Linked DNA regions of Homo sapiens: region 2 is linked to region 1. Evidence: fine-mapped expression QTL. A gene starts in region 1. The other region holds a variant in brackets. All regions are shown on one strand. Distances are between the middles of the regions. Region 1 holds the start of SLC25A39 (solute carrier family 25 member 39). Region 2 holds the start of PYY (peptide YY).

Evidence for each region. PIP is the estimated chance that this variant, and not a neighbour inherited with it, causes the effect.
Region 2: its variant is fine-mapped to the expression of SLC25A39 in amygdala (GTEx, PIP 0.95).

What each region holds. Positions count from the first base shown.
Region 1 is chr17:44,323,540-44,326,434 of GRCh38, reverse strand. SLC25A39 (solute carrier family 25 member 39) reads left to right here and starts at 1,612. Exons shown (of 12, transcript NM_001143780.3): 1 at 1,612-1,724; 2 at 2,858-2,895. The coding sequence starts at 2,873. It overlaps LOC124904009 (a long non-coding RNA gene), which reads right to left and starts at 982. Exons shown (of 2, transcript XR_007065768.1): 1 at 814-982. RefSeq lists enhancers at 530-579, 1-689, 760-819, 870-949, 1,110-1,299 and silencers at 1,400-1,829, 1,850-2,069.
Region 2 is chr17:43,951,299-43,954,193 of GRCh38, reverse strand. PYY (peptide YY) reads left to right here and starts at 254. Exons shown (of 4, transcript NM_001394028.1): 1 at 254-344; 2 at 711-898; 3 at 1,005-1,085; 4 at 1,214-1,461. The coding sequence starts at 711. The coding sequence ends at 1,238. RefSeq lists an enhancer at 716-1,219. The variant G/A (reference allele first, on the strand shown) is at 1,686.

The DNA of each region.
Region 1 (2,895 bases):
CTCAGCCTCTCGAGTGGCTGGGATTACTGGCATGCGCCACCACGCCCGGCTAATTTTTTGTATTTTTAGTAGAGACGAGGTTTCACCATGTTGGTCAGGCTGCTCTCGAACTCCTGACCTCTGGTGATCCGCCCGCCTCGGCCTCCAAAAAGGCTGGGATTACAGGCGTAAGCCACTGCGCCCGGCCTTTTTTTTTGAGACGGAGTGTTACTCTGTTGCCCAGGCTGGAATGCAGTGGTGCGATCTCGGCTCACTGCAACCTCCGCCGGCCGGGTTCAAGCGATTCTCCTGCCTCAGCCTCCCGAGTAGCTGGGATTACAGGCGCCAGCCATCATGCCCGGCTACTTTTGTATTTTTAGTAGAGACGGGGTTTCACCATGTTGGCCAGGCTGGTCTCGAACTCCTGACTTCAAGTGATCCGCCCGCCTCGGCCTCCTAAAGTGCTGGATTACAGGCGTGAGCCACCGCGCCCGGCCTGTGGTAATCTATTTCAACAATAACCTACTGCAAAGAGTTTTGAGACTCAGAAGAAATCACGATACGAGAGCAACCAACACCAAAACGTCGATGCCCTCCCGCACTCAGTGCTCTTCCTCTCCGCGCAGAGTCATTCCGGGCCTTAGGCGAGGTTGTGATTTGCCCAAGGTCACGCGAAGGTGGGATCTGGCTCCCCATGGCTCTCCCGTCTCCCCCGGCTTGCTCACGTCCCAGCCCGCCCGGCCCGGGCTGCAGCTCAGCTAACCCAGTGGCGCACACCCGCGCGGGGCCCTGTGGTTTACAAAGCGTTTTGCAGTTGCAGGCCTGTCCTGTAACCTGAAAAATGGGGGCGATGCTAAGGCCGGCGAGAGAAGTCGCCGCGAAGTTTTCAAGTCTCGGCGGGTAGCCCGGCAAGTAACTTCGTCGTTATTGTGTGGTCTCCCGGCGATCTCGAAGAACTCATTCTCACTGCCGCCGCCACGCACCTGAGGACACCGAGGAAGAGGGCCAGTGCGTCACCCTCGCCGTCCAGAAGGCGCTGGGGTTTCCAGTGCCGCGCGCGGCCGGGGCGGGGCTGGTGAAAATGCGCTGTTAAGGCCGGCGCGGCGGCTCACGCCTGGAATCCCAGCACTTTCGAAGACCGAGGTGGGCGGATCGCTTGAGCCCAGGAGTTCCAGACTAGCCTGGGCAAAATAGGGAGACAAAAATAAAAGTAACAAACCAGCCGGGCGTGGCGGCGCGCGCCTGTGGTCCCAGCTACTCCGGAGGCTGAGGCAGGAGGATCGCTTGAACCCGGGAGGTCAAGGCTGCAGTGAGCCTAGATCGCGCCACTGCCCTCCAGCCTCGGCGACAGAGCGAGGCTGAAAAAGATGCTGTCTAAAAAAAGATGCTGGAAGTGCGTGCTGCTGCCACGTTAAGCGCGACGTGGAGACCGCGAAGTTGGCCGGCAGCTCTCAGCGCTGGACAGGCATGGAACTCGCCCGCGCGGCCCCGTCAAGGGGGCGGGACCGTCGCAGGTCCGGGCGGAGACGCGAGTGGGCGGAGCCGGGGACACTCCGGGCTTGCGGCTGGTCGGCCCGCGGCGGGCGGGGCCTCGTGGCGCGGTGTAGGGGCGGGGCCCCCTTGGCTGCTTTCGGCGTCGGCCTAGGTGCGCTGCGAGCGCGCGCGGACCGCGCACAGGCGGCGGAGCCGGTATGGGCCCGCCTGACCCTGGGCGCCGCGCCGCACGAGCACCAGCCTAGAGCCAGGTAGGCGGCACTGGGCCGGGGCTGGGGGCGGAGACGGAAGCGGGGGTCTCCGGGCGGCCGTGCGAGCCAGGGCAGGTGCTGGGGCCGTCGAGCTGGCGTGGTCCCCCTCACCTGGCGGCTCTCCGCCGTTCGGGGCCGGGAGTGTCGCCGAGGGTCGGGGAGACGTCCTGGTCCTACGTTCCTACTTCCCGCTCTCCCGGCTGCGCCCCGGGCCTGCATTTTGGGGCGGGAACCCAGAGACTGCTCTTTCTCTCCGGGCCCCGGGTCTGGCCCGTCCGGCCGGGCGGGGAGGGCCGGGCATCCCAGCCCGCAGTCCTGAGGAGGCGACGGGCCCTTCTTGGTCACCGGATCTGTTTACACGTCACCCTCGATGCCCGGCCGTCCCTCCACGCCCAGTAACTTGGGCTCTCAGGTGCCTGCCCGGGGCCTTGGTGCTGGAGTGGGGGCTGTGGGGGCAGCACAGGTACTCTGATTTTGGGGCCACGAGGGCCAAATCCGCGCCTGCACGTAGGAGGTGCGCAGTGGACACGTGCGAGGTGGACGAGGGAAGGACCCTGGCTCCTACTGCATTCGAGCGATAGGTCTGGCACCCTAGCTTCCTTCGGAACCACTCCTGAGTGACCTTGGGCAGGCCACCTCGTCTCCCCGAGCCTTAGTTTTCCCCGGCGGAGGGGGGCGGACAGTCCCTGCTTTAGAGGTCATTGCCAGGGTTGTTGAGGCAACAGATGTTTCGAGGGCGGTGGATGAGGGTTGGGTTAAAGTCTCACAGTGGGCCGGGTGCGGTGGCTCACGCCTGTAATCCCAGTGCTTTGGGAGGCTGAGGCGGGCGGATCACGAGGTCAGGAGATCGAGATCATCTTGGCCAACATGGTGAAACCCTGTCTCTACTAAAAATGCAAAAATTAACTAGGCGTGGTGGTGCGCGCCTGTAGTCCCAGCTACTTGGGAGGCTGAAGCAAGAGAACCGCTTGAACGGGGGTGGATGTTGCAGTGAGCCAAGATGGTGCCACTGCACTCCAGCCTGGCAACAGTGCGCAGAGCGAGACGCCGTCTCAAAACAAAAGTCTCACAGTGGCCCAGCCTCCTTTCCTGCCATCCCTGGAGTTGTGGTCTGTTTGAGGTTTGGTTTTCAGGACTGAAGCTTCAAGATGGCTGACCAGGACCCTGCGGG
Region 2 (2,895 bases), 370 kb after region 1:
GGGGGCTGTGGGGTGAACATGGGGTTCAGGCTGGGTACCCCATCCAGTGAGACCACGAATCTGAGCATGGCAACTGCCCCCTCAGCTCCTGCGAGGTGGAGACATCACGCACTGGCTGGGTATAAGCTCAGCGATCTGGCGAGGGTGGAAGGAGGGAGGAAGAAGGGCCCACCCCCTGCTGGCTCCCCCTCCCCCTGGGACTCCCCCTCCCTTTCCAGGCGGGGATATAAGCCCCACAAGGAAAGCGCTGAGCAGAGGAGGCCTCAGCTTGACCTGCGGCAGTGCAGCCCTTGGGACTTCCCTCGCCTTCCACCTCCTGCTCGTCTGCTTCACAAGCTATCGCTGTGAGTGGCTGGGGGCTCAAGCCTGGGGAAACCCAGGCTGTTTTGTGGGGAAACTGAGGCTGGGATGGTGGAAGCTGGGGGTGAGTGGTAGGAAACTGGATTGGAGGGGGCCATCGGAGGTGGGAAGGAGGCCAGCAGCGGGGGTGGGGGTGGGGAGGCAGGCAGGGCTTATGCTCCTCTGACATGAGGAAACTGAGTCAGGAGACGGTGCAGTGCCCAAGAACACACAGCAAGCCCGGTGGCTGAGCCTTGGTCCGGTACCAGCCCCAGGGAGAGCGTCGGAGCGCGGCCCCGACGGCAGCCGCAGCCTCCCGCCGTGTAGGGTCGAGGCTTGGAATGACCCACGTCCCAATGTCGCCTTCCCAGATGGTGTTCGTGCGCAGGCCGTGGCCCGCCTTGACCACAGTGCTTCTGGCCCTGCTCGTCTGCCTAGGGGCGCTGGTCGACGCCTACCCCATCAAACCCGAGGCTCCCCGCGAAGACGCCTCGCCGGAGGAGCTGAACCGCTACTACGCCTCCCTGCGCCACTACCTCAACCTGGTCACCCGGCAGCGGTGAGCGCAGGCGCGGAGCGGGACCCCTGGGGCTCTCACCCTGCGGCCCCGCTCCACCTGGGGGCGTGGCCAGATCTGACCACGCTCTTCCCTTCCCCGCCCCCAGGTATGGGAAAAGAGACGGCCCGGACACGCTTCTTTCCAAAACGTTCTTCCCCGACGGCGAGGACCGCCCCGTCAGGTCGCGGTAAAAGCGCCCGTTACCACACATCCTGCATCCGAGAGCGCGGCCTGGCCCTACCCTGGCAACATCACTTAACGACGTCTCCCAGGCTCGCCTCCCCAGATCCAATTCCTTCCCCTTCGCTTCCGCAGGTCGGAGGGCCCAGACCTGTGGTGAGGACCCCTGAGGCCTCCTGGGAGATCTGCCAACCACGCCCACGTCATTTGCATACGCACTCCCGACCCCAGAAACCCGGATTCTGCCTCCCGACGGCGGCGTCTGGGCAGGGTTCGGGTGCGGCCCTCCGCCCGCGTCTCGGTGCCCCCGCCCCCTGGGCTGGAGGGCTGTGTGTGGTCCTTCCCTGGTCCCAAAATAAAGAGCAAATTCCACAGAAACGGAATGTATGCCTTTGTATTTCCTTTCCTTTCTCCTTCGTGGAGGTGGCATCCCGTAGAAGTGGAGGGTGGAGGCGTGGGGGCCAGGGAAGAGAAAACCGACTTGGACAGAGGCGCCCCAGGACAAGGCTGGGGCGGGCTGCGGAGTTCCCTCTGCTCGGAGCCCAGGGAAGACTCGACCACCCAGCCTGGAGCTGGACAGCGCCCAGGCCAGGAACTGCTGTGGAAG[G/A]AACTCTGGTCGAGTGGGGGCAGGAGTGGATGGAACTCTGGAAGAAGGGGCGGGGAGCGGCGACAGGAGCCTGCTAGGCAGCCTAGGAGAGCAGATGGGGTCAGGGCTGTCCCTCCCCCACCCCGTGAAGCCGAAGACGGCTGGGGGACGAGTCGGGCACCAACACCCCGGGGCGTTTCCCCAGGAGCTGTAGTACTAGCGCCCAGGGCTGGAGTGGCTGGAGGTGAAGTGTAATCCAAAATGGGGCTGTGGAGGAAGAGCCGTGTGGGGGTGAGATGGCTGTACGTGTGCTGGCCGGAGAGGCAGGCCATTTCTACCGTCCCCCTTTCCCTGAGTAGAGGAGCAATGGGAGTGTGGAGGCTGCCCTATCCCTAAGAAACCTCCCTCCCCAATCTCGCTGAATTCACACGCAGTGGATAAGTCACGAACTGTTCTTTCTTAGTGACAAGGCCATAGGGACACCCTCCATGTACCCCCCTCCCCTGGACTAGCTACTGAAGCCTAAAGGCTCTGTGGATGTTTAAACTGGAATCCAACTCGAATCCCTCACCACTCTGTACCTATTCCAGAGCCTGCCTGCAGACTGATCTCCCCTGACATCCACCCTTCCCTGCCCCTTTCCTCCAAGAAGCTTGCCTTGATTGCCCAATTGCACTCTTCCTGCCCTCTCTAACTGCCCAGCTCTCAGGGCCTCTGCTCTGTTCACTGAGAGTTCTATGTCTCTGTGTCCTGTCTCCCTCCTGGGGCCTCAAGAAGGAAGGGCCTATGTCTCCTTCCTGGGACACAGCCTCCTGTATCTGTGGGCTCTCTTCTGGGACTCCAGTTCAGCAAGACCTGCCCAAATCTGAAGCAGGGCACTAGGAGATGAGGGGGGAAATCAGGTTGACTTCAAAACCTGTGACCCAGAGAGGGGAAAAACGACAGGAAGGCTGGGGGCATCCTTGCAGCGGATCAGGGGTTTTTTTGTTTTGTTTTTTGTTTTAGAGATGGAGTTTTTGCTTTTGTCGCCCAGGCTGGAGTGCAGTGGTGCGATCTTGACTCACTCCAACCTCCACCTCCTGGGTCCAAGTGATTCTCCTGCCTCAGCCTCCCGAGTAGCTGGGACTACAGGTTCTCACCACCACACCTAGCTAATTGTTGTATTTTTGGTAGAGACGGGGTTTCACCGTGTTGGCCAGGATGGTCTCAATCTCCTGACCTCGTGATCTGC